4 separate regions of the Homo sapiens genome follow, and all the other regions are reported to be linked to region 4. The links are microRNA targets in miRTarBase. Many come from high-throughput screens and were not tested one by one. Region 4 holds a microRNA gene; each other region holds the end of a gene's coding sequence.

What was found. The annotated mature microRNA hsa-miR-4760-5p reads UUUAGAUUGAACAUGAAGUUAG and lies in region 4 at 3,417-3,438, shown strand. An mRNA with a match to its seed (bases 2 to 7 or 8) in the 3' UTR can be bound and repressed. Matches are read on the target gene's strand: a 7mer-m8 pairs with bases 2 to 8, a 7mer-A1 pairs with bases 2 to 7 and ends in A, and an 8mer does both.
Region 1: miRTarBase lists GDAP2 as a target of hsa-miR-4760-5p. Seed matches in the 3' UTR shown: 8mer at 5,173-5,180.
Region 2: miRTarBase lists CREB1 as a target of hsa-miR-4760-5p. Seed matches in the 3' UTR shown: 7mer-m8 at 4,182-4,188 and 8mer at 2,374-2,381.
Region 3: the mRNA of SH3TC2 is a reported target of hsa-miR-4760-5p. Seed matches in the 3' UTR shown: 8mer at 3,621-3,628.

The regions. Positions count from the first base shown.
Region 1 is chr1:117,865,228-117,873,209 of GRCh38, forward strand. It overlaps GDAP2 (ganglioside induced differentiation associated protein 2), which reads right to left. Exons shown (of 14, transcript NM_017686.4): 14 at 1-5,389. The coding sequence ends at 5,342. Among named protein-coding and RNA genes, the nearest start is that of GDAP2, 60 kb to the right of the region's middle.
Region 2 is chr2:207,594,675-207,602,656 of GRCh38, reverse strand. CREB1 (cAMP responsive element binding protein 1) reads right to left here. Exons shown (of 8, transcript NM_004379.5): 8 at 1-5,743. The coding sequence ends at 5,599. It also overlaps a transcript of METTL21A not described here. Among named protein-coding and RNA genes, the nearest start is that of METTL21A, 27 kb to the left of the region's middle.
Region 3 is chr5:148,997,701-149,004,997 of GRCh38, reverse strand. It overlaps SH3TC2 (SH3 domain and tetratricopeptide repeats 2), which reads left to right. Exons shown (of 17, transcript NM_024577.4): 17 at 96-7,297. The coding sequence ends at 287. Among named protein-coding and RNA genes, the nearest start is that of MIR584, 61 kb to the left of the region's middle.
Region 4 is chr21:40,207,857-40,215,838 of GRCh38, reverse strand. MIR4760 (microRNA 4760) reads left to right here and starts at 3,408; the gene lies at 3,408-3,487. All of the region lies in intron 11 of DSCAM (DS cell adhesion molecule), which reads left to right.

The DNA.
Region 1 (7,982 bases), not on the chromosome of region 4:
ACCTCATGTAAATGGTCAAAAAATAATGTCCCATCCTGGGGTTCAATATAAACACTATTATTTCACTATTGATTCTTCATAGGCTATATTTGTATAGAGTGAGACCCTCTTTAAAAGGGATCTAACTTCTAATTCAGAATGAGCAAAAAATATTTTAAAATACAAAGTTTTCATAAAAGCTTTCTGAATTTTCAGTAAGCAAATTGTAAGATCTGTCAATTTAAGCATTTTTAGGTTTCCTTCGCCCAATACCAATTAAAATCATTTATATATGTTAAGCTCTTAAATATTTAGCTCACAAGATCTGGTCTAACAAAGTCCTGTCTCAGTCTGTGATGACTGTGTGCTTACGTTAACGAAACACATTACAAAAAAAAAAGGTATGACTGTGTATATAAAATGTATTAGCTTTACTGTCCAACAAAAGTATCAGATCACATTCTGCAGTTGTGATTTTGTTAGTGTAATTCACCTACAGAATACCTATGCTTTTCTTCCTGAACTCAGTGGTCCTATACATTTAAGGCATACTGTACTTGAAAAGATTCAAAGATGCTGTTCTTAAAAGTGTAAAAAATAACTAATATACAAGAGAGTCACTAATATCTAAAATGATCTTGATACCATCTGTTTAAGGACTAGTTCAGTAAGACTCAAAGATTGAACTAGGTTATTTATTGCTCTATGTTCTCTACATATGGACCACAGAAGTCCGACTCAAAGAATGTAAAACAAGGCAGATTATGCATATATGTGTGTGTGCATGCATGTATATGTATATATGGTTAGGCCTACCAGGCAATCCTTATCATCTCTGGGTTTATGATATGACCTAGATTATAGGTATGTTATGAACTGAATGCTTATGTTCTCCTCCTCGTCTGCAAATTCATATGTTGAAGCCCTAACATACAAAGTGATGGCATTTGGAGGTGGGGCCTCTGGGTGGTAATCATGTCATGAGGGTGGAGCCCTCATGAATGAGATTAGTGCCCTTATAAGAAGAGACAGGAAAGTAACGATGTCTCTCTCTCTCTGCCAAGTGAGAATACAGCAAGAAGCCAGAAGAGGGCCCTCATCAGGAATTGCGCTGGATGGCACTTTGATCTTGGGGTTTCTCAGCCTCCAACTGTGAGAAATAAATGTGTTTTGTTACGCCACCCAGTTTACGGTATTCACCCAAAATGACTAAGGTAAGGTAAAGCCCTCCTTTCATTCTTCATGGTCTTTTTGCAAAACAAGAGTTAATTATATGCCAAGAAGCATTAGTGCCAGCACAGTTAAAACACTCTAGCGCACGTTAATTATGATGATTACAACTTAAGAAAACTATAATCAGAAACCTGGCCAGGCACAGTGGCTTATGCCTGTAATCTGGCACTTTGAGAAGCCAAGGTGGGCAGATCACCTGAGGTCAGGAATTCGAGAGCAGCCTGGCCAACATGGTGAAACCCCGTCTCTACTAAAAATACAAAAATTAGCCGGGCATGGTGGTGCATGTCTATAATCTCACTTACTGGGGAGGCTGAGACAGGAGAATCTCTTGAACCCAGGAGACAGAGATTACAGTGAGCCGAGATCGTGCCATTGCACTCCAGCCTGGGTGACCAAAAAAAAAAAAAAAGTACAGTAAGGCCCTTTAAAAAAAAAAAAGAAAAAGAAAAAGAAACCTAACTAACTCCAGTTTTCAAGGTGTTTTTATATTATCCTGCAGTTCTTTTGGTCCTTAATACAATCAATCCACTGCCACTAGAACCATGTAACTCTCCTCTATATAGTACTTCAAATTCTAATCATTTCTGTGCATATATTAAGCAATTTAAACTCTATATACATACATACTGTCAATGTATCGGGGAAATACAAAGAGTGATCTTTAGTTTATGCTGAATACTTAATTTTATCACTTCTCCATTAACTGTTATAAAGACAAGACTAAACCTACAGTTTGAATTCATTAAACAATATCCAAGCAAACAGAAAAGAAGAGGAAATAGGCAAGCCATGTTTTTCTACTAGAGTGACTATACTTATCCCTCTTTAAAAAGAAGTGATATTTTCAATTTCAGAAATTTGATTAAAAAACTACATCTATTTTTCCTACCAAAAATACTCAAAAAACCCTCTGCTAATTACTCTCAAAATACTGCAGATGTATTCCTTTGAAAAAGGAAATACAGGATGGGCACGGTGGCTCATACTGGTAAGCCCAACACTTTGGGAGGCCGAGGCAGGAAGATCACTTGAGGTCAGGAGTTTGAGACCAGTCTGGCCAACATGGTGAAACCCTGTCTCTACTGAAAAAAAAAAAAAAAAAAAAAAAAATTAGCCAGGCATGGTGGCAGGCACCTGTAGTCCCAGCTACTAGGGAGGCTGAGGCAGGAGAACCACTTAAACCTGGGAGGCCGAGGCTGCAGTGAGCCGAGATCACACCATTGCACTCCAGCTTGGGTGACAGAGTAAGACTGTCTCCAAAAAAAAAAGAAAAAGAAAAAGGAAATATAAAGCATCCGCCAATGAAACATAATATACATTAAAGGAGAAAACGTCTTTAAAATATGTACCATTTGCCCTCACGAGTCTAATAAAGGCTGAACCTTTTTTAAGAGGTAATTTTCACTATCAAGAAACTTGGATATAGATGAATTAAGAACCCAAATACACGTGGAAGCAAGAAGTGTACTTGTTTTAAAAATCATATTATGCCTTGCATGATTAATAAATTAATATTTTATAACTTGTGTCTTCAACAATTCAATTAGCATTTGGCATGACCAAAGTTTAATTAAATTAAAGACTTGGTGGTGCTTTGAATTAACATCAGATGCTGGTGGTCATCTCCATCCAGTATCCCCTTTATCCTCTAATATGTCCTTGAAAATGGCATGTATTATTCAGGCTAAACCTTTTCACAAAGGCAGATTGGTATACCAAATGTTGCTTAATCATTTCAATATCAAGGTCATTATATTTCTCCTCTAGGATTTGGTACTTTGAAGCAACTTCATTCTATAACACTTTAGACATCTATAAAAGCATGAACTTGGTCCCACATCAAATTTAGTTTCAGTGAGAAGAGTGGTCCTTATCTTTCTTTAGTCATCATTGAATTATAAAACACAGTTGATATGTATATAGTTCTGTATCACCTTTATACCCTAGGACATCAATTGTACTAAAATCTCAGCATATGTAGAATCCTGCTTGTGTTACTAAACATTAATATACTGGTATGAATATAGCAAAGGAACATCCTTTCAAAATCATTGCCTGTAAGAAATTGTATATATAAATTTGCTTCCTTTCAAATTGGCAAAGTAGCTTACGGCCTCTATTATCTCTACAGAAAATGGTTTGGGCCAGGTTCTTGAGGTAGCCAAGTTCCCCTTTAACAAAGAAAAGTTGGCAGACTTTCATAGCTGCTCCTTGTGAAGAAGATACCTCAAATATGATCTCACGATTGACTGTAGAAGATGAAGTTAAAGTTGCAGACTTTTAAGGTACAGTGCCCAAGGGGTTAAAAAAAAAGTACTGTTTGAGAGAAAGCTTAACATCCGACATCTGACTGGCTGCCTGGATGTGATGACCTAGGGGACATAAGAGAAAATCTTAACATAGATGTATATATAAGGATCAAGTAATTTTGAGGTCTGACACAAAGAAAATGTGTTCAATACATGCAAAAGATAAGAACCTTTATCTAAAAAATGTAAAGTCTCTTCTTGTTTATATGGGAAAATACAGGATGAATTTAATGCACTATAGGGGCATTTCCCTATCATAAATGAAGAGAATATGTTTCTTTGATCTCCAATGAAGAATTAGTTTGGGCAGAAAAGAATGGGACCCTTGGAAGCACTGATCTGGAGCACATGATAGAACAGAAAGGTTCTGCTTTTTTTTTTCTCTGAACTGCCAATGTACGTGATGGGGTGAGGAAGATGGGGCTGTGGGGAGGTGGCTGTAGGAATCAAAAAAAGTACAAAGCTACCCAGATGGGAATAATAATGGTTTGACCTTAATTCAAGAAGAAATGTTTAAAATGGCCAACAGATGCCTCTTATTGAAGTATAGCATCAGGGGATGAGCAGGCCAGAAGAGATTCTGGACAAAAGAGGAAGGAGGTCATCAGGGTTGGAATTTTACACTAACAGGTATTGCCACACAAAAAGAAAAATCACTCAAATGGTATCAAGGACAAGAGGAGTGCTGTGTAGCATTCCCTCATATATATTTATTCCCATTTAAAAACTAACTGAAGATACCCCACCACAACAAAGCCCTTTCTAAATGCTATCTTCATGATACCTCTGTGAGGTAGGCAGCATAATTCTAATTTTTACTCATAACCAAGCTAAGGCACAAATAGAGCCTGAGTGGTAAAAGTGGTCTTTTGCCAATTATCAGCTCCCTGGATTTGTTCACTGTGACACACTTCCTCCACACTGATGCAGGCAACTCAAGAGATGCTGCTATGAAATGTCCTTAGAGGTAGTAGACCTGATAGCTAAACAAAATCATTCATGACTCTGGAAGACAACACACTCTCTAAATGCTCACTGCTGGAGTCTTGGAAGATGCTCTTAAGAGTACTAATATGTGCGGTCCTTTTGAATAAGACCAAATCATCCATGATTATAGGAAAAAGGCTGAAGATACAGTCTTCTTGTTTCACCCCACACTGTTGAGATCGGAACTGTGGCAATCTTAACAAGTCATATAATCCAAGGAACCTTAGTCCTTAAACTTTAGTCTTAACTTGTACATTAACATTCTAAGTCCTATGTTTTGCTAATGATTTTGATGTTTTTTGTCAGATACATTTCCACATTCTTGGACTCAGGTAATTCTCTTTTAACACAGCCAAATTATCTTTATAAAATATACATGGTATTAACACCATGGATCTGAAGCAAACAATGCATCTGGTTAGCATACATTGGTTCTGTATATTTCGAGAATCACTTAAGTACACAAAGGAAGCGTGCAATGTTAGAGAGATGATGTGAACAGTCTTGGTGGTTTATCTAATGGAGAATTCGGTGTCCTTCAGGAAACTAAAGATACTCAAAAGTTGCTCCCCAATTTCTATTAACAATCTAAAAATGAACATTTCCATTTCATATAAATATACAAATTTAAAATGTGTGCAGTTCAGAATGGCCTACCATTTTTAGATTGCTTATGTGCCAGAAAATATACAGTCAATAAAAAAATACCAGAGAGGTGGGGACAAAAGGCTCTCTGGATCTGTACAGCAACAATGAATATCACTTCAACAGGTAGCTATTCGTGGAGGAAGTGGCATCCTGGGAACCAAGAAGCACTGAAAGATGGCAGGTCACAAATCTGGTGATGGGGGATATGATGTATAGTAAGGCCCGTTTTCCTGTGGAAAGAAAAAAGGAGAAGAACATTTAAGTAACAGAACCAATTTAACTGGAAATGTGAAAAAAAGGGATTTACAGTCATTGAGGTAGTGATATAAAATGTCTAGCACATGTCTGGCACTAAGCAGGCCCTCAGCCATTAGGTAGTTCAACTAGTATCACTCAGAGTATAAGACAGACAAAGGCAATAGGATCATAATATTTTTTAAGAATAATACCACTTATTGAATATTTTATGTGCCAGACAATTTATAGGCGCTTTTAAAGTCATCCCTTTAAATCTTCACATAATGCCATGAAGTAGGTAACATCCTCACTTTACAGAAGAGGAAACTGAGGATCACACAGATTGCATAATTTGCCTAAAGTTACCTAGTTGGTAACCAGCACAGCCTGAATTTAAATTCAAATCTATTTAAATCTAACATCCAGATTCTTTTTTGTTAGATTGTGTTGTCTTACTGTGTGCCAAATCTTAATTTAGAGTTAGGAAAACAAAAAAGTTATCACAGAGGAATTTAATAGCTATAACTATTTTGGCAGAAGTGAGTCTTCATGACATGCCTGAGTGGCAAGGCTTGTAACAATTACAGTTCTCAGGAAATTTAGTTCAAGATCAAGATGGAGAATTAAATGCCAAACCTTTAATGTCAATGTAAGGGTAACAAATTAGTGCAAGGGGGAATTTTTTGGCTCTGATTTTGGCTAATCTCAGTAAAAATCAAGACAGTTAAGTTTATGATAGAAGGATCCTGGATTAGATTTATGAGACTTAAGATTGCTTTCTCATTTTTAAGGAAAGTATTTCTTTGACAAAGAATTTGTTTTTCAGCAAATCACAAACAGATAATGCTTAGCACTAGTATAAGACAATAGTTTGAAATGAAGAATAAGTAGAAGAAAATAGCATTTCTTCATGGTACATTTACATTATAGCTACTACAGAGCATTAAACCTACCGGGTCTTGAACATAGCAGGCAGTGAAATTGTTTGAGACTAAATAAATCAGGTACTCTGCCATTCTTCAGCACAAATGCTTTGGAGCAAGAATTGATCTTGGGCCATAACCAGGAAAACAAGACATCTAGGAAAACTTACATTCCAATTATAAACCTAACCATGTATCAAACAAAATAAAAAAAATAGGTAGAAACAAATCCTAGGATAGGCTACATTTCTAAAAACTTGAAAAACCTTAATAAAACCTTTTTTTAAAATTGAAAAATTGGATCTAACTAAAGAGCTTCTGCACAGCAAACGAAATTATCATCAGAGTTGAACAGACAACCTACAGAATGGGAGAAAATTTTTGCAATCTATCTATCTCACAAAGGACTAATATCCAGAATCCACAAGGAACTTAAGCAAATTTACAAGAAAAAAACAATCCCATTAAAAAGCAGGCAAAGGATATGAACAGACACTTCTCAAAAAAAGACATATATATGGCCAACAAACATATTAAAAAAACAGCTCAACATCACTGATCATTAGAGAAATGCAAATCAAAACCACAATGAGATACCATCGTATGCCAGTCAGAATGGCGATTACTAAAAAGTCAAGAAACAACAAATGCTGGTGACGGTACGGAGAAATAGGAACACTTTCACACTGTTGGTGGGAATGTAAATTAGTTCAACCACTGTGGAAGACAGTGTGGTGATTCCTCAAAGATTTAGAACCACAAATACCATTTGACCCAGCAATCCCATTACTGGGTATATACTCAAAGGAATATAAACCATTCTATTATAAAGATACATGCACATGTATGTTTACTGCAGCACTATTCCCAATAGCAAAGACATGGAATCAACCCAAATGCCCATCAATGATAGACTAGATAAAGAAAATATGGTACATATATGCCATGGAATACTATGTAGCCATAAAAAGGAATGAGATCATGTCCTTTGCAGAGACACGGATGAAGCTGGAAGCCATTATTCTCAGCAAACTAATGCAGGAACAGAAACCCAAACACCGCATGTTCTCACTTACAAGTAGGAGCTGAACAATGAGAACACATGGACACAGGGAGGGGAACACTTACTGGGGCCTGTTGGGGGAGGGTGGGGGGAGAGCATTAGGGGAATAAGCTAATGCATGCTGGGCTTAATACCTAGGTGATGGGTCGATAGGTACAGCAAACCACCATGGCACATGTTTACCTGTGTAACAAACCTGCACATCCTACACATGTACCTCAGAACTTAAAAAACTAAATAAAATAATTTTATATAAAAAAGAAATACCTATAAAAATGTTTCACTGACCAAATCCTTTATCTTCAATATGCATGGAAGCTATACTTACAGAAACATGCCCTGAAGAGATGAATCTATTCTGAGTTTCATCTGAAAAGTTCACTATCTGTCTTTAGGAGTTCTCTATTCTATTACCAATTTTTTCTAAGTTTTTCACACCTACATTAAATTATGACAAACTAAGAAGAGCAAGTTCAATACTTAATGCCATGAAATAGAATTTCCATTATTAATTTCACACTGGGCAAGAGACTGCTGAGCAATCAAATATTTTTTCTATTTCTGGAAACAATCATAGAAATTTTAAGAATTGTTGCCAGG
Region 2 (7,982 bases), not on the chromosome of region 4:
CTCCCAAACACAATGATAGATCATTTCACTTGGCCAACAAACATAAAATCATTATTTGCAGAGATTTTCTTCCTCCCTACCAATTTTTAAGCTAACTCAGATTTACTCTCACTTCTCTGAGATGCTCCTCAGACAAAAGCTTGGAAATGCCATACTTCTATAGGCAAGTAATGTTAGGTCAAATGTGAATTTCCTACTCTTTGATCCTTTTCAAAGACAATTCCAAAAGATTGTTCATTTTCCTTTTACTTGCTGGTGAGAATAATTAAAAATGTATCATGTCATACCCAGCTGGGACCTGCACCCACCGTACCAGAATGCAGACAGGTCAGTATTTTCTTTCTGTGCTAAAACTGCCTGTTTATAATATCAACTTGCATCACCGGCTTTGTTCTATTTTATTTATATATTTTTTAAATTTTTCTTTTTTTAAAAAATAAATTTCAAGCTAAAACACCTGAAATATAATCCCTCCATTCAAACGTTATCTGGTCCCTCTTAAAGTCGGTCTGCCCCCTGAGGACACATACAAAGGCTTAAGCTACATTCACTAATCAATAAGAACTTATCATAAGCAGATGAGACAGATGGAACTTCAGCACCCTGTTTATTTGAAAATTTTCCATACTGACTCAGCTTCATGATATGTTCAGCCCCTCAAAGATTAATGCCTCTCCTAGCCATTGATTCTAGAATGTCAAGGAAACCAGTTCCTAGTACATACAGTGACTGTGTAGCCAACTTAATAGTCAACATTATTACATTAAGAATATTCAAGATGTATGTAAGCCTCCCAACAAAAAGTTCTAGTTGTGCTTTGTACAACTGAGTGAACTATTTATCTCACAACTCTTCACCTACAGCCTTACTATGCACACTTTACTTTCTCCTTCCTCATCTGAAATCAAATTTAGGCAGCATTTCTTTGATGTTAACAAAGCCATTAAAAATGAACATATTTCAGTATATTACATGTGGTCTCTGTGAGGACAATTGCTTTAAAAAGTCTTGTACTATTCTAGACAAATTAATGGATATTTTGGCATACTATGTACAGTATTAATGTTGTGATGAGGATAAAGTCTCATTAAAAATTGAAAATAAATATTATGCACTTGAGTTATTTTCCCTTCAATCTTCATCCAAGATGAAAAAGAATAAAACAAGGTTTGAGCCCGTCTTTTAATTAACTGGGCTAGTCATATCTAATTTCCTGATGTTTTTCTTTTACAGCTGTTTTTAAGGCTAGCTTTTAGGTGCTAAAATATTTTAATCAATGAAAAACTTCCATTTAAAAAGTCACATGATTTGAAGAGAGGAGAAAGACTAAAAAGTTGAGAATTACTTGATGAGGGAATTTCTTAAGTTGCTAATACCCAAACTGGGTCATTTAAAAAAGTGCAAGTTACACCAAACATTTACAAAGGACAGAATGTAAATATAATCCAAATAAATATACAACTTTTCTATTGGGTCCATGAGGGAAAAAATATACCAACAGCTTTCAGGGCTACAAAGGCAACAAAAATAAAGCCTCTTGAAAACAACTGAAAAGGTATGTAACACTATTTCTAAAACTCACTTTAATTCAAGATCTTAACTTTAAGATACATTAGCCCTACTTAATCCTGCAAAATGAAGCAGCCGTGATCTTCAAAATAAACAGAGACCAATTTATGGTAATAGCTGACTGTGGCTGATCATAGAATTAAAAATTTGTTAAATATTAAAAGAAATCTAGATTGAAGTCACTTCAAGTAAGTAAAGCATCCTGGTTTAAACAAACGTATTTCTTCCTAAGCCTTTGTATGATTCCACATGTCACCCCAAAAGGTAGAAATGATAGTAGGGATTTGTCCTACAGGGATTTATCCTGAGAGACAGAGATAAACTTCAGCCAGATGACATCTGATGGGATAGGCTGCCTGACTGGTATTGTGCTTTCAGAGACTAGCACTGCTGCTGACCTACCATCAAAACACATTTTCTGACAAAATCCCTGCTCAAATGAAATGCCAAAATTCCTCCCCCAGGATGATTTTTGAAAAAATCAGTGGTTCCTTTAAAAAGCTATCTTCAAAATGTTCTTACCACTGTTATAGCTGCCACAGACAAAGCATACAAACCAAATACTTTTGGGGGAGAGGCTTTCAAGTGACTAGTAACATATTTAAAAGTATCAAGCCAAAGAAAACTAATAAAAAATAAAATACTTGGAAGAAAATTAGAAGATAAAATCAATCATGAGTGCTGGAGTAATGCAGTCATAGAAACTACCAGAAGGAATGCAACAGAACACACAAAAATGTAAAATTTCATCTGACCTCAATATACTATAATACTCAGCATTCCTGACTTAAGAGCTCTCAGAGCTTTAGATTATATACTGTATGTATATATATATATATATATATATATGTACACATATATTATACAAATGCCACCCCCCCCAAGAATATCTAAATGAAGAGAGCACCTATGACAATATTATGGTTGCCAATATGGTACTTGAGTTTGAAAAAGAATGAACTTAAAATTGTATCTGATAGCAATTATTTAATAATGAACACATTGGATCTAGCCCTTTCTAAGCCACTTTTCAGTTAAACATTATCAAAGCTTGAAAACTCATAAGAGTAATATATCAAAAATAAACCCCTCCCCACTTCATTTTTATTAATCTGTCCTATAGATAAAAGTGCCACATGGCCCTATATTTGCAAAGTGAGCAATATCAAACTTGCTATTTTCTAGGCAAATCAGTAGCATATGTACAAATTCCTATGATGACATTTTTATTCCCTTTTGGCCAATATAAAGAGAAAAACATTTATTACTGGTAATGTGGCCACATATGTTCTTGGCTACAAGGTTTTTAAAAATTATGTCATTTTCTTAATAAAGATTCTCAAAGTTTCATGCTTACAAACAAACCTCCCCACCATTCTTGCATTAAAAAAAGAAAACTGCACAAAAGATGCTTGATTTTATCTTTATAAACTGAAATCTTCAAGTTTCACCAAGGGTCTAAGACAGATTTAGCAACAGGATACATTTCTCACCTCATCATTAAGCAACTGACTTCAAAACCAGTGCAATCATCCTCAAGGTATGAAGGATAAGGTCTTTATAACTTATAAATTCATCCAGCTCACATGAATGTGATTGCCTTGATTTATCAGGGACTAAGAGGACCACCAACTTCCCAGTAAGTAGAAAGCCTGAACTTTTGAAAAAAAGCTTTAGAGAATACAAACTGCTAAACATCAGGCAATTTTTCATTTATAACACTTACTTCATTCAAAATGTTCGATTCGACATTTTGACTCAATAAATAATTCCAACTTGTGAACATATTTGTGACTTTGCTTGATTTCTGTTAAACCAGTTTTTAAAAATGACATATCTATGCGGTTACACAATTTTTATGCTATAACTTTCCCCATTAGCTCAGCAGGACAAACATCAAACTTTATAGTTGTTTGAAAGCCTTCTTGAGAATCTGGTGAACTGTCCAAACATAAAGACTACATCACTTAATTCTTAGAATGATGCTCCTTCATAAACTCTGTTCATCCTTGAAAAAAGACAATGGTTTGTTACAAACGAAAATATACCATTTACAAATGTTAATTAAAATCTTATTTTAAAATGGATCCAGCAATTAACACTTAAATCTTCATATTTTGTTGTTAAACAAGCTTGACTTTCTTAAATAACTCTTGACTAAATATAAAACATTAGTTTTCTAAGTGTCTCAACTCTTTTTTAAAAGGAATTTCCTTCCCAAATGAGACATTTTTTTTATTTTTATTTTTTGAGATGGAGTCGCCCAGGCTGGAGTGCAATGGTGCTATCTCGGCTCACTGCAACCCTCTGCCTCCTGGGTTCAAGCAATTCTGCTGCCTCAACCTCCTGAGTAGCTGGGATTACAGGCGCCAGCCACCACGCCTGGCTAATTTTTGTATTTTTAGTAGAGATGGGGTTTCACCATGATGGCCAGGCTGGTCTTGAACTCTTGACCACAGGTGATCCACCCACCTTGGCCTCCCAAAGTGCTGGGATTACAGGCGTGAGCCACTGCGCCCGGCTCCAAATGAGAAATTATAACCTAACATTATGTCAGTTTCCAATTTTTAAAATCCACCTTAGTCTTTTTTTTTTTTTTTTAAGAGTAACTGTTAGATTTATCGAGCTTAGTGAATAAAATGAGTAACAATTAAAAGTGGTATTGAAAACAATGTATGATATACACAAATACAGACTGTTTTAATCAGGAATTAAAATTATAAAATGACAAAGGCTATACAGCATATTGGAAAGCTAAAGCAGAACTAATAACTACTCTTTTTACAAGAGAACAAAAAAATGTTTTGTAAGAATGACAATCCAAATATTGCAGTACAGCAGTCATTCAAATATGTCTGAAAATAACTTTCCTTGTGCACATCTAACACTGTACTTTTTATATCCTTACAACTTCTTTCATTTAAAAAATTCACTAGAGATTCTCTGTTAAATTGTTAATATGGAAAATATTTAAAATCAGTATTTTTCTACATGTAACATTTCATAAACAAATATATATCACTTTGCTTTATTTGACATCTTGAAGGCTTTCTTGGTGGTGGTATGTAAGTGCAATGGGCAACAGTAAATTAGAAATATCTTTTTACGTAAATGAGTGACAATATAAATATTTTTGAAGGTGAGGACAATAACATTTATTTAAAAATCTTGTTATATAACTCAAGGGATTGGTTTACTGATCAGCATTTTACTAAGAATTTAGTACTAACTAAAATATGCTTTGTACTTTTATTTACTTTGCTTTAATTTAAAATTCAAATACCATGCTTTGTCGTTCAGTTGGTTACTTCTTTTAATGTATTCAAAAATGTTGAACACATACAGAACTGAATTAAGAAGCAACAACTGCCCTATGGAAGAGCTGTATTAGTACAGAATGCTTTTAAGAACCAAGGACAAATTTTCAGTATTGAAGAAGACAACATACATAAAAAGCACTCCAAATTCATTTCTAATTCCTTCAATACCATGCTAAAGTTCTTTTTTAGAGGGTATGTCTCTTAACAACTTTACATAATTCACAATGAGAATGTGACAACATGTCAATTTGGCAATCAACACTTCTTCATTGCACCTTACTTACTTTATGCATGCGGCCCACACATTACTTCAGCTCAAGAGGCTGGGGTAATTCTGTCCCTAAGGCAATCAAGGAGCTCAGCACAAACCTTGAAATCATTTTTAAAAAGATTTTCTTTTCCTCATTTCTCCCATCAATTTACAAGTAAACAAATTATTACTTCTTGAGGAGGGTGGGGGTTGAAAAGCAGAAGTCTCTTCATGATTCCTGGCGTTGAAAATTTCTTGAGGGGAGAAGTGGAGGCAGGTGTTGGAACATTCACAGTTTAATGCAAAAGCACAAATGAATGAAATTCTGTAGTTGCTTTCAGGCAGTTTTGCGCATAGAAAAAAAGAAATGTTTAGAAAATAAAATGTTTATTTTGTCTTTCAGGTTGTGGCCAAGCCAGTCCATTTTCCACCTTAACAGGTGAAAATTTAAATCCCAAATTAATCTGATTTGTGGCAGTAAAGGTCCTTAAGTGCTTTTAGCTCCTCAATCAATGTCTTGTTTTGATTTTCAAGCACTGCCACTCTGTTTTCTAAACATTTCACATATTCTTTCTTCTTTCTACGACACTCTCGAGCTGCTTCCCTACAAGCAAAAGAGGACGGGAAAAATTATGCAAATGATTTCCACATATTTATTTTGGATTACCTTTTTTTTTTCTTTTTTAAAGAAATAGCTCACAGCAACCAACATTTTAGTATATATTAAGCATTGGAAAAGATATACAGAATTACTTGGAAATTACCTTATATTAAAATTTTAATCTGGCCAGGCGTGGCGGCTCACGCCTGTAATCCCAGCACTTTCGGGGGCCAAGGCAGGGAGATCACCTGAGGTCAGGAGTCCAAGATCAGCCTGGCCAACATGATGAAACCCCTCTCTACTATAAACACAAAAATTAGCGGGGTGTGGCGGCACATGCCTGTAGTCCCAGCTACTTGGAAGGCTGAGCCATGGGCATCGCTTGAACCTGGGAGGCAGAGGCTGCAGTAAGCTGAGATTGCGCCACTGCACTCCAGCCTGAGTGACAAGAGTGAGACTCCGTCTCAAAGAAACAAACAAAAAAACAACTCCATAAACAAACAAGACCTAAATGACCACTTAAAAATTACATCTTACTATTAATTAAAATATTCTGCATAATTCCTGCAAAACTTGAAATTCTATCCATATCAATAACTAAGAAAACATTAAAGCTAAATTTCAATGTGTAACAATCCTTTAAATAGAAAATCTTACAAACTAATCATTTCAGGGCATTTAAAAAAATCTAACAGTCTCTTCAACAAATGGTGCTGGGAAACCTGGATATCCACATGCAAAAGAGTGAGGTTGGGCCGCACCTTATGTTGTACACAAATATTAACTCAAAATAGATCAAAGACCTAACCGTAAGACCTAAAACTATAAAACTTCTAGAAGAAAACACTCTCTGACATTGGATTTGGCAGTAATATCTTAAATACAACACCAAAAGCAGAGGTAACAAAAGCAAAAATAGACAAATAGGACTATATCCAACTAAAAAACTTCTGCACATCGAAAGACAATAAATAGTGAAAAGGCAACCTACAGAATGAGAAGAAATATCTGCAAATCATATATCTGCTAAGGGGTTAAGATCTAGAATAGGCAAGGTGTATGGCTCACGCCTATAATCCCAGCACTTTGGGAGGCTGAGGTGGGAGAATCTCTTGAACCCATGTGTTCAAGAACAGCCTGGGCAATATATTAAGACCCTGTCTCTAAAAAAAAATTTTTAAAAATTTAGCCAAGTGTGGTGGCACATGCCTGTAGTCCCAGCTGCTCAGGAAGCTGAGGTGGGAGGACTGCTTAAGCCCAGGAGGTCTTAGGTTGCAGTGAGCCGTGATCCTGCCACCTGCATTCCAACCTGGGTGACAAACCAAGAACCTGTCTCAATTAAAAATTAGTTAGGTGGTGTGTGCGTGTAGTCTCAGCTACTCAGGAAGCTGAGGTTGGAGGCCGGGAGGTCGAGGCTGCAGTGAGCCATGATCATGCCACTATACCACAGCTTGGGAGACAGCAAGATGCTGTCTCAAAAGAAAGGGAAAAAAAAAATCTAGAATATATAAAGAACTTTTGAACTCAACAGCAAAATAACCCAATTTAAAAAATGGGCATAGGGACTTGAACAGAGATTTCTCCAGAGATATATAAATGGCCTATAAAAAGATGCTCAATATAGGCTGGGTGCGGTGGCTCATGCCTGTAATCCCAGCACTTTGGGAGGCAGAGGCGGGTGGATCATGAGGTCAGGAGTTCAAGACCAGCCTGGCCAACATGGTGAAACTCCATCTCTATTAAAAATACAAAAATTAGCCAGGTATGGTGGTGGGTGCCTGTAGTCCCAGCTACTCAGGAGGCTGAGGCAGGAGAATCACTTAAACCCGGGAGGCAGAGGTTGCAGTAAGCCGAGATTGCACCACGGCACTCTACCTAGGCAACAGAGCGAGCCTCCATCTCAGAAAAAAAAAAAAAAAAAAAAAGATGCTCAACATCACTAATCACTAGGGAAATGCAAATCAAAACCACTAGGTATCACCTCACAACCATTAGGATGGCTACTATCAAAAAACCACCACCAGCAGAAAATACCCATTGTTGATGAGGATGTGAGGAAACTGGAACTCTTGTGTACTGTTGGTAGGAATGTAAAATGGTGCAGCTGCTATGGAAAATGGAATGGAGGTTCCTCAAAAAATTAAGAACAAAATTTACCATATGATCCAGCAATCCCACTTTTTGCTACAGATCCAAAAGAACTGAAATCAGGGTATTGAAGAGATATCTGAACACTCATGTT
Region 3 (7,297 bases), not on the chromosome of region 4:
ACAAAAAAAACTAGAGTGGCCAGCACAGCCTCCTAGCCTGTCCTGGAAGTGTTTGCTAATGCTGTCTCTTCTTTGCCCCCATACCACGGGGTTAGGATGCCCATGATGCCACTGAGTACTTCCTTCTGGCCCTGGCAGCAGCGGTCCTGCTGGGTGATGAGGAGCTTCAGGACACCATTAGGAGCAGGCTGGACAACATCTGCCAGAGCCCCCTGTGGCACAGCAGGCCCTCCGGGTGCTCCTCAGAGAGGGCGCGGTGGCTGAGTGGTGGTGGCCTGGCCCTCTGAGGAAAGCTGTCCTGTCTCTGGACATTTGGCATGGCCAGACTCTGACCCCACTGCCCTAGGCTCTTAAATACTCATTGGGAGGGTCCGAGTCCTTACCTGGCCTAGCCCCCTCATTTCACAAGAAGAAGAATGAAGTCCAGGAGGAGAAGGGCTCATTGCAGGCCACAGAAAGATTTGATGGTGCAGCGATGAGAATTCCTGGTTCCAGGCTTTGCATCTGGAGCCTTTACCGGTTGACTGTTGCCTTCCACACAAACAGCCTCTGAAAAGCACTTTCTCCATACATAATTCTGGAGAAGATGAGGGATCTTGCCCTCCAGGAGCCTTCCTTCCTCCCCCAATGAGGAAATCAGTCACTGCACTGGTGCAAAGGCAAGCAGATTGGAATTTGTGCTCTTCACCGATTTTCTCAGGGAAAGACCCCTTCCCCTTGCCAGCAGAGGAACCTGTAGTTTTTTCCATTTCTTTCTTCAGAACCAAAGTATGTATCACTCCTCATGCTCACAGGGATTGACAGGAGAGAATTCACCAGGATCTTAGCTCAAAAGACACAGCCTCAGAATGGCCAGATGGATTGCACGAAACCTGACTTGGATTCACCATCTTCCTCCTGCCATAAGGCTGTGCTCCCACATAACCTCCCAGAAGCTCCAGGGAAGCTTTCCAAGAGCAAAGGCTTGGAAATTGAATGTTAAGAAAATTATGACATAAATTACATGTAAATAGTGTATATGATTAAATATTGTCCAGTTACATTTACACACACATTTTGTCTCATCCACAATGGGGGCAGATGAGATGGAGGACTTGATGGATGGGAGAGAATACCAATACATGTCTTTTTTTTTTTTTTTTTTTTTTGAGACAGTTTCTCCTCTGTTGCCCAGGCTGGAGTTCAGTGGTACAGTCAGGGCTTCCTGCGACCTCAGACTCCGGGGCTCAAGTGATCCTCCAGTGTCAACCTCCTGAGTAGCTGGAACTACAGGCATGTGCCATACCCAACTACAAGGCATCTTATTGATTTCAGGGCAGCTGCTTTACAAAGCATCTCTATTAATAACATCACTGCATAGCACACTGAGTGGCCTAAAACACTTATAATCTCATGGTTTCTGAAGGGCAGGAATCCAAGCATGACTTAGCTGAGCCCACCAGCTTAGGGTGGTTCACAGGCTGCAATCAGCTGGGGCTGCAGTTATCTCAACTTCAACTAGAGAAGGATGGGCTTCCAAGCTCACCCACACAGCTGTTGTTAGGAGTCAGTTTTTTGCTAGCTGTTGGCCAGAGGCTTCCTGCAGCCACTTGCCACGTGGGCCTCTCCACAGGGCAGTCACAACATGGCACCATGCTTCACTAGAGGGAGCAAACAAGAGGAGCAAGAACCAGAGTGAGCAGGAGAAAAGGGAGTGACTCTTTCTATAACCTGATCACAGAAGTGACATCTCCTTAGTCTTGCCTATTCAATTCATAATAAATGAGTCACTAGGTCTAGCTCCCACAAGAGGGGAGTGTTTACCAACAGCTTGAATACCAGATGGTGAGGAATCATTGGGGATCATTTCAGAAGTGACCTACCACAGTATCTGAGTTCTTTGATAATGAAATTGGGAATTCTCTAATTTCAGCAAACTGAAAATATGGTCCACTAACCAGCAGCATCAGCATCACCTGTGAGATTGTTTGAAATGAAAATCTGTGGCCCCACCTATGATCTCTGAATCAGAATCTCTGGATCCCAGAACGCTGACTCGTCCAAGCTTTCCTGGTGATTTTAATGCACCCTAAAGTATGGGAAGCACCACTGCAGGGCAAGAGCCCTCAGATAGTGTGCATAACTATTACCTGGTGAGGTTGTGGAACATGAACTTCTTGGTTTCTATCTCTAATAATTCTGATTCAGTAGATCTGGGATGTATCCCAGGAACATGCATTTTTAGAAAGCAACTCAAGCAAGCCTGATGCAGGTGGTTCACCCTTGCTCCTTTTCTGTGAACCACAAGGATACCAGCCATAATTCCCTGCATCTGATGCCCATCAGCTTAGCTTTTATTATCAGACCATCTGCCCTTAATTTCTAGCTTCTTGGGCTGACCAGATGATTGGTTGTATGAAAGGGTGAGATGGGAGTGGTGAGTTGAGCCGCCATTGCATCTTCTAGTCATCAAGGTTGTCTACTAATTGGCACACATTTTCTCTTAGAGATGTGGTTGGTTGTCAAAAGGCTGTCTACTCTAGAGAGTATTCTCCAGGAAGGAGAAGCTTCCAGTTGTCTAATTAGTAAAGTTATCTAATCTACTACCATGGAGAATAGATGTGGTTTTGCCCCCACCACAAGCTGTAAAAGCCCCAAGCTGGGAGGGACGTTGCGGTTGAGGCTATTCAGTCTAATCTCCCGTGCATAGTCCTTTCAACAACATTCCTGGGAGACAGTCAGGGGCACACACATTCCAGAACAGTTACATATCGTGTATTTGAAGAAGGCTCACACAGCCCTGGAAACCATGCCACTGGCCATTCCCCATCTGACTCAGGTTACAGATCCCCTCCCTTTTCCCACTGACCACTCACTCTCCTCTGGCCAGATTTGTTTCTGTTTCTCTGAAAGAGCAGTTCCCACAACTGCATGAGGCTTTTGATATTGGCCGGTGGGTGAAGAGTACAGAGGGATGTTACTATACTTAATTTGATTCTTCCTCTCCCCAGCAGCCACATCTGTCCTTGGCTTCCATTGAGCTTTATAATCAGTTGAAACTTCTGTGTCTTCTGACTTGAACTTCTGTTTGGACAGATCTTTCTCAATTGCTGCAAATATGCACATGCATTTGCATATGCATACACATACACACACATACGTGAAGAGCGTTGTTTCTATCCATGTTACATCTCCTTGGAAATTTTAGCTAAAATTTCCCAATTCTGTGCACTTTGATTTACCTATAAATCTGATGAATTTACCCATAACCAGGTCAGTTATAAAAATGTTTAGCATGTTTCCAAAGACAAGGGTAAGACTATTTTTTTAAAATAAGAAAAACATTGTGCTATATAATTGCAATTACTACATTCTATATGTAAACCGCTTGCTAAAACTCTTTTAAAAAGTGTTTAAAATTTTCATTTTTGAAATGTGGGCCAGCTATTCCCTTTGGAAACATGTTGATGCTGTCTTTTTTTCATGATCCACAGAGAGTAAAGTGGTGATTGGATTTGGTCTCTACTTAAACATTTAAAAAAATAAGTGTATCATAGCCAAACATGATCTAGTTACCCTCTTTATTCTAATTGTTCCCTCAAATCTTATATGGGCTGTGTGACTGCTGGCTCCTTACATCTAATCTAAATAAAGAACAAGAAGGGCATTGCAACATTGTGGAAAACCCTGTAACATGTTTTCTCAGCTTTCAGGTATACTAGTTCCCTGTCCAACAGTATTAACATTCTGAAATCCAATATTGCTTTTGTCCTTTTCTTATTTGCTTTTCCATTATTTTAAGATGCCTTTATATTGTGCATGTGTATATATATGTATGTGTGTGTGTGTGTGTTCATTTTCTTCCTCTTTGTAAATATAATGCACCTCATTTGGCAGAAGTTTATTTGGGGAAGGGAATATGCAGGAATGGAGGGTGTTAGGATGAGGGATCAGGAAGCCTATCACTAAAGGGAACCTGTATTTTGGTCTTGATTTTGATATTAAATTGCAGTGCGACCTTGGGCAAGTCACTTAACCTCTACACATCTCAGATATTTGTCCTCTGATAAAAGAACCTCACCTCTGGGTTTTTCAGCAGTGCTATTTTTATACTGTATGAATAGGATGAGAAATAGTATTGGAGAGATGAAATAATATATTTTTATAGCTCAATTATATTATCTTCTTTTTACAGGTGAGTAAACTGAGGAACAGAAGGGTAACTTTCTCCCAGACACATTGGTAGTTAGTGGCAAAGACAGTGGTACTTGAGGCGGGGGTCTCATGACTCAAGGACTTAGTTGCACAAATGACAGGATTTCTGCTGTTCAGGGCTTCCTTCACAGTTGTGTGTGTATATGTACACGTGTGTGTATGTATGCATGCATTTATCACGATATGCACCAAAGAGCCTTTACAAAACATTTTCTAAATTGATTTACTTCTTTTACTCATATTAACTTATTTTTATAAGGGATGACTAGTCTATATAGAAGAAAAACTTGTATTGTTTTCCATAAACAGAATTATGTAAATAATGGCAAATACAATGAAAATAAAATAATGCATTAACTTCAAGCTAGGTCCTGTTGCTCATTGCAAGCACCCAGCCTAGGCCTTATCTGGCATTGTTTGAAAACAGAGAGATTAATAAGTGGCAGAGAGTGTAGATGACAGACTAGCAACAACCACTTTTTCCTTGCACACTCAGAGAAATGGAGTAAGCAGGGAAGAGGACTGAGCTCCTTCTGAGGAGGGTCAGTGTCATTCAATGCCAGGTTTGGGCACACATTTCAGGGAAGTGGGGATTCAGCTGGGTGACAGGAAAGGGGCAAATGATATATTATGTAATATGATTCAGTATCAGAAGCATTGTGATTGGTGTTAGTTACAGGATGTTACAGGCACTGCGGGGAAGGGATTTTACCCAGACAGGGTTACGGGCATCAGGAAGGGCTTTCTGGAGGACGTGATATCCAAACTGAGTTCTGAAAGGGACACTTACTTAATTCTAACTGCAGACCAGCAGGTTGGTATTGACAGACAGTGCATGTGTCAAGCAAAGGTCCAGAGGGTGGACAGGGGGTGATGTTTTCTGAGAACAGGTCACTCTGAGTGCAGTGAGGCTGGAGCAGATTCAGGGAAGCAAAGAGGGTTTGGATTCTACCTGGAGGTTGAGGGGAAGGTATAGAAGGATTATAAGCAGTTGAAAGAAACATGGTCAGATTTGTGCTTTGGAAAGATGATTCTAGAAGCAGCATGAGACTAGATTAGGGCAGCAGTGGAGAAGGTAGAAAACACATTAGGACTTGGCGATTGCAACACAACACTCCAGCCTTGATTCAGATATCAACAGTTTTCCCCACTAATGTTCTTCTGATCCCACATTGGATTTAGTTGCCATATTTCCCTATGCATCTCTGGTCTATGACGGTTTCTGCCTTTCCTTGTTTTTCATGACCTTGTCAGTTTTGGTCTCTTTTCCTCTTTTAATTGCTCCCATTGAGATGTGTGGACAAGCGGCAAAGAAGGAAGAAATTCAAGGGAATGGGCTCTGCACTCACTCAGGTGGCAGCTCAGGTGGGGGCAATGTAATGTGTTTTGGAGTTGGGCATACTTAGGTTAGAATCTGTTTCTTACTAGCTGTGTGACCTTCTGCAAATTAATTAACTTCCCTGAGCCCAGGGCTGTCAGAATTATATCAGACTTACTTATGTCATAGACAAGGAAATGGCTAAAAAGGAAATCCATCTTTGGAGGCATGTAAGCCTTGACATTGAGAAGTGCAGCCAAACCTGGAGGTGTGGCCAGGCACCCTGGTCCTGCATTCAGGGACACTTGGGTCTGAAGCTCTTTCTCCTTTTCATCACTGAGTGACCTGAGCAACTTACTTTACCTCTTTAAGCTTCAATTATTCCTCTGCTCAGACTTTTAATTGAGACGAGATGTATGGATGGCTTGGTATGAATGTCAATTGGTGGTAGCTGTCACAATGAAGCAGAACTGAGTAGATTCTTAATAAGCACATCTATTCCTGGGTCCCACACCGTTAAGCGGGAGGGTGTGTATGTTAGGGGTGCTCTTTGCTACTGGGCCTCTCACTTGGCGGTCTTCCCTCTTCGGTGGGACAGCATATATTTCCTGATATGTACCCCCTCACTCTCCCAACTCTGTCTGATTATTCCAGAACTCAGGGGACTTGAGGATGGAGGCTGCTGGAAGTGCTGGCTCTGGGAATGTGCACTTCGTTCACCCTCCTCTAAGGGGTGTCTTCTCCCCAGAGAAGCAGAGACAAGTGACTGCTTAGGGGGTGGGGATTCTCCCCAGCTGCCATGGTGCAGGATCAAGAATAACTTGCGTGGCCAGGACTGCACAGTGGGGCTGCTTGGCTTGGCTTCCCAGTACAGACTGCGAGGCAGGTGAGAGGGAAGGATGCTGTGCTTTCAAAACGATTTCAAAGGTGAGAACCCAGCTGCCACTTCTAGTGCTGCCTTTGACTCCTTATCCAGGGCATCACACTAGCTTGAGGGATGAGGCTCTTTGAGATGAACTTCCAGACAGGGTAGGTGAGAGGATGGTTGAAGTCACATGGCTAATGAGAAGACAGGCTAATCCATTGCTGTCCTTTTCTGTGAGAAATCCAAGAGTTCCAGTAGGGGGCAGTGATGTCTTCCTAAATAGTGTATCATTGGTAAAGAACGTATTTAATATTAATAGTTCTGAATCAGACTAGGGTAGTGGCTGTCAAATCCTTTTTTGTTGTTATGTTGTTGTTGTTGTGGCCCACAGTAAGAAATGCATTTTATGGTTTATCCTCGTGTGCATATGTTTGTGCATATGCAACAACATAGAGAAATGCACTCATACATTCTGTTTTGTTCTATTCATTTTTAAAAACATTCTATTCTAGTTAAAAAATATCAAATTTATGACTCACCAAATGAATTTCTCACTCATTAACCTGTAGTTTGAAAAGTGCTGACCTGGAGGGTGGTCTCTAAAAAAGTGCAGGAGGGCTCCAGCCTTTGTTCTTTTCTATGTATTATTTGATGGATATCTTACTTCTTTTTGAGACCAGAGAGTGTGTACATCTCAAAATAAAAATAACAGTTGAGGTTAATGTGTTTTATGCATTAAGTCTCATGCAAAACCTTTGTGATGACTCTCATGTAATCACACAACATTTTGGTGTAGTTACTATTATTTTTATCTCCACTGAGGTTTAGAGAATTGATGTGGCTTGTCTAAGTCCACAGTTAGTGGTGATCGAGGTGAAATTTGAAGTCATGTCCTCTGATGCTGGAGCTAGGAAATGAAA
Region 4 (7,982 bases):
TCCCCAGTGTGGTTTTTAAATTAATTAGTTAATTTTTTTCTTTCATTAGTTTTAATGGTACAAGTGGTTTTTGGTTACGTGGATGAATCGTGTAGTGGTGAAGTCTAGGATTTTAGTGCACGCATCACCCAAATAGTATACATTTACCCAACTGCTAGTTTTTCATTCCTCACCTCCCTCCCCACTTCTGAGTCTCCAATGTCCATTACACCACTCTGAATGCCTTGGCATACCTATAGCTTAGCTCCCACTTATAAGTGAGAGCATGAGTACCTGGTTTTTAATTCCTGAGTTACTTCACTTAGAATAACGGCCCCCAGTTTCATCCAAGTTGCTATAAAAGTCATTATATTTTTTTTTATGGCTGGGTTGCATTTCATGGTATATATATCACAATTTTTTCTTTTTGTTTTTTTTTAGTTGAGTCTTGCTTTTATGATTTTTTTCCTTTCCAACTGTTATTTTAGGCTCAGAGGGTACACGTACAGGTTTTTTACATGGGTAAGTTGTGTATGAACCACATTTTCTTTATCCATTCATGGATTGATGAGGACTCAGGTTGATTCCATATCTTTTTTTTTTTTTTTTTTTTTTTTTTTTTTTTTTTTTTTTTGAGACGGAGTCTCGCTCTGTCGCCCAGGCCGGACTGCGGACTGCAGTGGCGCAATCTCGGCTCACTGCAAGCTCCGCTTCCCGGGTTCACGCCATTCTCCTGCCTCAGCCTCCCGAGTAGCTGGGACTACAGGCGCCCGCCACCGCGCCCGGCTAATTTTTTGTACTTTTAGTAGAGACGGGGTTTCACCTTGTTAGCCAGGATGGTCTCGATCTCCTGACCTCGTGATCCACCCGCCTCGGCCTCCCAAAGTGCTGGGATTACAGGCGTGAGGATTCCATATCTTTACAGTTGTGAATTGTGCTGTGATAAACATGTGTACAGGTGTCTTTTTGATATACTGATTGCTTCAAGAACTTAGGAACTCTGGAGTTTGATGCATATATATTTACAATTGTTACATCTTCTTGTTTAATTGGTCATTTTATCATTATATAGTGACCTTTGTCTTTTTCTTGTTGTTTTTTGTTTTGTTTTTTTTTTTTTTTTTGCTGTTGTTGCTTTGAAGTCCGTTTTATTTGATATCAGAATCGCTACTCCTTGTTTTTGGCTTCCATTTGCTGGAAATCTCTTTTTCCACCCTTTACCTGTAGTCTATAAGAATCCTTACATGTTCAGTGGTGTTTCCCAAAGACAGCGGTGTAGGCTGCTACTCACAGCTTCTTTCAAAGCTGTTTACGGTCCTGTGTTCCTTCTTGGAAAAAAGTTCACAGTGTGAATCTCTACACACTATTTTATCTTTCCAAGTGGAAAAGGAATGCTAACAATGCCTATATTCCATCATCTTGGAAAAACAAAACAACAAGAAAAACCCAATGTAAATATTATCAGCACAGAATCTTTCTTTATAGGCTCCAAAATATACCAGATGCACACTTCATATTTTATCTTGATTACATATGCCACTCTTTAGAGTCTCAGCTAACTATGACTGAGTAAGAATGTCTTAGAACACAGGCTCCCACGTCCATGAGTGCATTAAATATTCTTATTTCCAAAGTGGCCAGGCTGGCTGATAGCTATGACTAGTTGGAGAGAAAGCAGCATTTATAGCCTAAGTGGGCTGGGCAACAAACTACCTGAAATCCTTAGGAGCAAGAATAGAAGGGATGCCTTGTTCTCTACACCCAGGTATCACTCATTGCCTGATGTCTCGCTTCGTGTGTTTGCTGGGTTTCCGTCTGTCTAGGAAAGGAAGCTCTATGGGGGCAATGACTCCAATGAGTTTGTCTCCCTTTATTCCTCACCATGTAGGTGTGGATTTGAGTGGACTCCAAATGGCTGGGCCAAGGGCCTTGGATACCAAACACAGCAGAAGATGCGGAAAGGATGAGGGACCCAGGGGTTCTGTCTTTGGGGGAAGAGCCCTGTTCCCTGGACATTGCCTCCTTATATCCCTGCACTAGAATATCGTAAAATTCCCCTAGTCAAAACCCATGATCCTGCATGTCTTGGAGAGGCTGCCTCAAGGATTCCTCCTTGACTCCACTTATTTTCATGGAGAAGGAACCCCTCCATCCCTGGCATCCTTAACAGATTCCCTTCTAGCTTCTCACCCACTCCATCTCCAAGCCAGGTTTCCCTTCGCTTCTAGAAATAATCTGCAGTGGCTGCCTAAGATGTTTTCTGCGTGGAACCCAAATAAAAATGTAATAATTTAAATTAGAATTTTCTACAATCATGTGTTGCTCATGTCTGCATTATGGATACCCAGGTCACATGTAGGTAAGCAATTAGCAATTATGGTGGAAACAAGACTTCCTAACAGGTATTTTGGTGGAAACTTGAAAGCTGTTTCTAAAGCTGTTTATTCATGCAAACCTCATTACAGTCCTGACAGTAAACCTATGTGTGCACAGGGAGGCAGGAGGCTGTGAGGCAGCAGCAGGATCCTTCACCCCATGGCTCACTCACAGTGCACTCTTTAACCAGGTCTTATTATGTCCATGCTTCTGGGGTGATTAAAATATGCCCTAGAAGCCTTGATACCCAAAATAAAGCAAAACGTGGAATATGAAGTTTAAAAATGTGAAATAATAAGTAAAAGTTTTGTGAAATACATTTTTCTATACTGTTCAAATGATCTTGAAGATGGCATCCGTTTCTTAGGTCTGCCATGCAAAATGACCACGATGGAGTGGCTTAAAACAACAGACGTTTCTTCTCTCACAGACATCTGAAATCAAGAAGTCAGCAGGGCTGGTGCCTTCTGGAGGCTCTGAGGGCACATCAGTTCCTCACCTCTCCCAGCCTCCAGAGGCTTCCTCAACCCTTCACACTGCTGAGCCTGTGGCTGCCTCACTCCAGTCTCTGCCTCCACCTTCACATGGCTTCTTTTTTGTGTCTCTGTGCCTTCTCCTTTTCTGTCTCTTATATGACATTCTTCAGTGGATTTAGGACCCACCCTAATGAAGGATGACCTTATCTAGAGGTTCTTACTTTCTTTAACTCTGCAAAGACTGTATTTCCAAGTAAGGTCATATTCTGAGATTCCAGGGGTTGGGATGTTGATATATTTTTGAAGGACCACAATTCAACCCACTAAAGGGATGAAAATTAAACTGAAAAATATCAACCCCTAAAAAACCTGCTTTATTGCCAACCATATAAATTGCTCTTTGTCACAATATACAACAGAGGCCTCACAAACCTTGGTGTTCTTGGTGTGAGAATGGTGAAAAACAAGATAGAAAGCAGCCTGAAATATGCACAGGGGTGTGTCATCTCGTTACTGGGAAAGGATGTACTGTCCAAGCGACAACTAGACTGCAGAGGTAAGGCTGAGACCAGGGCTGCCATGGTGTTTAGATTGAACATGAAGTTAGAATTCTTAAGTATCAAAACTAAATTCATGTTCAATCTAAACCCCATGGCTATGCCTCTCAAGGTGAGGCCTCTGTGTTGTTCTCTATGCCTTGAGCACCCTTCCTTCTTTGCAATAAAAAAAGTTGCAGAATTGACTGGGCACAGTGGCTCACGCCTATAATCCCAGCACTTTGGGAGGCCGAGGCAGGCAGATCATGAGGTCAGGAATTCGAGATCAGCCTGGCCAACACAGAGAAACCCTGTCTCTACTAAAAATAAAAAAATTAGCCAGGCGTGGTGGTGCACGCCTATAATCCCAGCTACTTGGGAGGCTGAGGCAGGAGAAATGCTTGAACCTGGGAGGCGGAAGCTGCAGAGAGCAGAGATTGGGCCACTGAACTCCAGCCTGGGCAACAGAGCAAGACTCCCTCCCACCCCCCACACCAAAAAAAAAAAAGCTTCAGAATTTCAGTCTCCCACAACAAAACCCACACACACACAAATTTGTGTAGCAGCTACTATTTGCCAACAATTAGGGTCTACACAATTAAGACATCATCTTTAACCTCAAGCAGTTTACAATCCAGAGGGCAATGATGGAGGAGAATAATGAGGTGTGGATAAAAGTGCCTATTAGCAGAGTATGCAGTGGAAAGTGTGATAACACTTCTAGATAGAAGGCAGTTGGTCCATAGGTATTTTGGTGAGAATCTACATGTCTGATGCATCATGGGCTGTACCAAGGACAAGTCACTGCCTTTGGAAATGTTTGACTCATGCCCTGATGGATAGGTGGATAGGTCTACACATCAAAAATGCATGCCTGGCTACACATTTATGAGAACAACAAAAATTTTTTAAAAATTATAACGCCACATGCTGGCAAAGATGTGGAGAAACTGGATCTCTCATGCATTGCTGGTGGGTATGTAATATGGTGCAGACATTCTGGAAAACTCTTTGGCAGTTTCTCATAAAACTAAACATGCACTTACCATGTGGTCCAGCAATTGTTCTCTTAAGCATTTATCCCAAAGAAATATGAATTTATGTTCACAAAAAGTTATATAAAAATATCCATAGCAGCTTTCTTTATAGTAGCTAAATTCTGGACAAACAGCAACAACAACAACAACAAAATGAATGTTTCTCACAGGTGAATGGTTGAAAAATCTATGGTCCATCCATAGTTTGGAATGCTGCTATTCAGCAATCAAAAGAAATGAACTGTTGACACACACAATAACCTAGATGAGTCTGAAGGGCATTACGCTTAGTGAAAAAAAGCCAACTTCAAAAAGTTATCTTTATAAAGCATTCTCAAAACGATAAAACAGCAGAGGTGGAGAATACCTTAGTGGATACTAGTAGACAGGTACAATGGGTAGGATGGGGCCAGGTGCAAACACAGACAGATAGGAATAAGGAATTCTTCTGTGGTGTGGAATAGTTCCTCATTTGATGGTGGTGGTGGGTACATGGACCTGTAATGGGATAAAGTTAAACGGAAGTATACACCTACAGAGCTACACGAGCACATACACACAAATGAATGTGGGTTAAAAATAATGAAGGTGGCCAGGTGCAGTGGCTCATGCCTGTAAACCCAGCACTTTGAGAGGCTGAGGAGGATGGACCACCTGAGGTCAGGAGTTCGAGACCAGCCTGGCCAACATGGTGGAACCCTATCTCCACTAAAAATACAAAAATTAGCCAAGCATGGTGGCACATGCCTGTAATCCCAGCTACTGGGGAGGCTGAGGCAGGAGAATCATTTGAACTTGGGAGGCAGAGGTTGCAGTGAGCCAAGATCGTGCCACTGCACTCTAGCCTGGGTGACAGAGCGAGAATCCATCTTAAAGAACAAATAAATGAATAAAAGATGAAGGCATCTAGTCTACTGGATAATGTTAACTGGGAATGTTCCCATGTGGGTTTCCTGGCTCTGATATTGCACCACAGCTATGGAAATTCACAACATGGCCAGAAGCTAAAGGACACACAGGACTCTACTATTTTTGCAACTTCCTAGGAGTCTGTATTGCAAAACTTTAGCTTTGTAAAAGTAAATGCCAAAAGATATATATGTGCAATAAATGTGAATATATACATTAAAAAGTTGTGGGAGTTTGGAGAAGGGAGAGCCCCTTGTAGGGGTGAGGTCAGGGAGGGCTCCATAGAGGAGGTAGGACGTGAGTTTAACCTGGAAGGTGGAATGAAATCCAACTTGAAGAACTGGAGGTAATTTTCAGAATGGCAAAACAGTGCCAGCCAGTCATACCTGGAAAAGGAAAACCATGTTCTCAGACCTCAAAATAGGGAATGGGGGAGGTGGAGAAACATACAAGGTATGTTTGAGTGCTGGGGTGGAATGTCTGGGTAAAGAAGGAGTTAGTGGGTAACTGGAAACATAGGTTGCAGCAAGATTATAAAACGTCTTAACTTTTAAGCTGTGAAAACTGAGCTTAATCTGTAAATAGCAGGAAGACATTGTAAATTGCAAGTGAGAGGATATCATACTGGAAGTTGCATGTGAGGAAGCTGAGTCTGGCAGAGCCCTAGGATAGACTGGAGTGGAAAAGGAAGATGAATGAGCGATGAGTTATAATGCCATTTCACAGCCCAGCACAGGCATCCTGATTATGGCTTGCAGTAAGCTGATGGTCACGGGCCTAGAGGGGACAAGTCTAATTTAAATGATGCTATGAACCTTGACCAAGAAGGACCAGGCCACTGATTGCCTTGGGGACCTGGAATCCATCCAAGGAGGAGCCTGGGACAGGAATAGGGACAGGGAGAAAGCTTGGAAGGAAAGGTGCCACATTTCATCTGTCTCATGTTGATTGTAAGGGGATGGTGTGCCTTCCAAATGGAAGTACCTGGCTGACCTCCAGAGATGGGAGACAGCAGCTCAGGAGAGAGTGGTCAGGGCTTTATAAGAAATAATCGAGACAGCCCAAGCAGGTCAGATCAGCAAGGGTAAGAGTGGAAAAGAGAGCAGAAGAGGAAGAACAGAAATGTAGGAGTCTTGTGTGTGCAGGCATCGCCATGCAACGTCTATGAAATGAGTAGTTTCTCACTTCATCCAGTCTTCTTCTTGGCATTTTGCTCAAAGCCTGGCATTATACTGGACAGGTCCAGGGTTGGCCACACACCCTGCATAACCTTCTCACTCATCCTCCCCCACTGCTTCCTTAACAACCTCCTGTCACTCACTGTCATCAAGGCGGAAGCATGTGCACTTCACTTCATCAACCATGGCAACCAGCTCTGAGAGTCCCAAGTGGAAGACGATGAGGGGAGAATCACTCATTGTCCTCGTGGCTACAGGCAGCCTCTCTGAGCCCACAGAACCTCACCCCTACAATTAATCCTGAATGCGAGTTCTCAAAATAGTGCCCGCTCATTTAGCTGTCAGCTGTCTTGCTCTTAGAGCTTCTGAAAAGAAATCACAATAGCTCAGACCTCATCTTTGAGGGGCTGTTTGTTTTGAGGGCTTTTTCCTTAGTTGCATGCTTCCTATTGCCAGCAAAAATTTCTTAATCTTCCTAGAGGATCAGATTGGCCTGTTTTAGATTTTTAAATGAAAGGTTAAGAGGAGGGAGGAGTAGGGCAGTGAAAGCCGCAGCTGCCTCTCCATATTTCTGTTTCGCAACCCAAGGGGATTTTGTGTAGGGCTAAATGGAACCCCCTACGGATAACAGTTATGTCAGGAGATCTTTCTGCATGTTCTCGTCATACTCAAAATGTTCCTTCACATGTAAGTTAGAGAGGACATGTTACTTCTTTCCCCAGCTGTTTCCTGGTGAGTAAGAACTCCTGACCATGTGAGAATATGAGAGCATGCAGCACTCCAAGATCCTTGGGGAAAACAATGAAAGCAACAGCTCAGTGAGCCATTCTCCATGCTCAACCGAAAACCCTTTGAGATTCGCTGCCACTTTCTGTGACAATGGAATTGTGGCCCGGTTTAGCCCAGAAATGTGTTGCCCAGGCTGGAGTGCAATGGCGCAATCTCAGCTCACTGCAGTGTCTGCTTCCCAGGCTCGAGCTATTCTCATGCCTCAGCCTCCCAGGTAGCTGGGATTACAGGCACCCACCACCACACCCAGCTAATTTTTTGCATTTTTAGTAGAGATCAGGTTTCACCATGTTGGCCAGGCTAGTCTCAAACTCTTGACCTCAGGTGATCCACCCACCTCAGCCTCCCAAAGTGCTGGGATTACAGATAAGAGCCACCATGCCTGGCCAGTGCTGCTCAAATTTGAACCAGGAATATTTGTTGATGGGAACATACACTAAATCTATTACTCCATGGATTCCATTTTTATTCCATTGATAATGTATTATAGGTATTATTAGGAACTAACTTGTGTCTCCCCCTAAAATTCGCATGTTGAAGCCGCAACTCCTGCTGTGACTGTATTTGAAGATAGAGGCTTAAAGAGGTGATTAAGGTAAAATTAGGTCCTAAGGGTAGTTCTCATCTAATCTGACTGGTGTCCTTCTAAGAAGAGGTTAGCGTGTAGCCACACACATGGAGGAGTGACCGTGTGAGGACCCC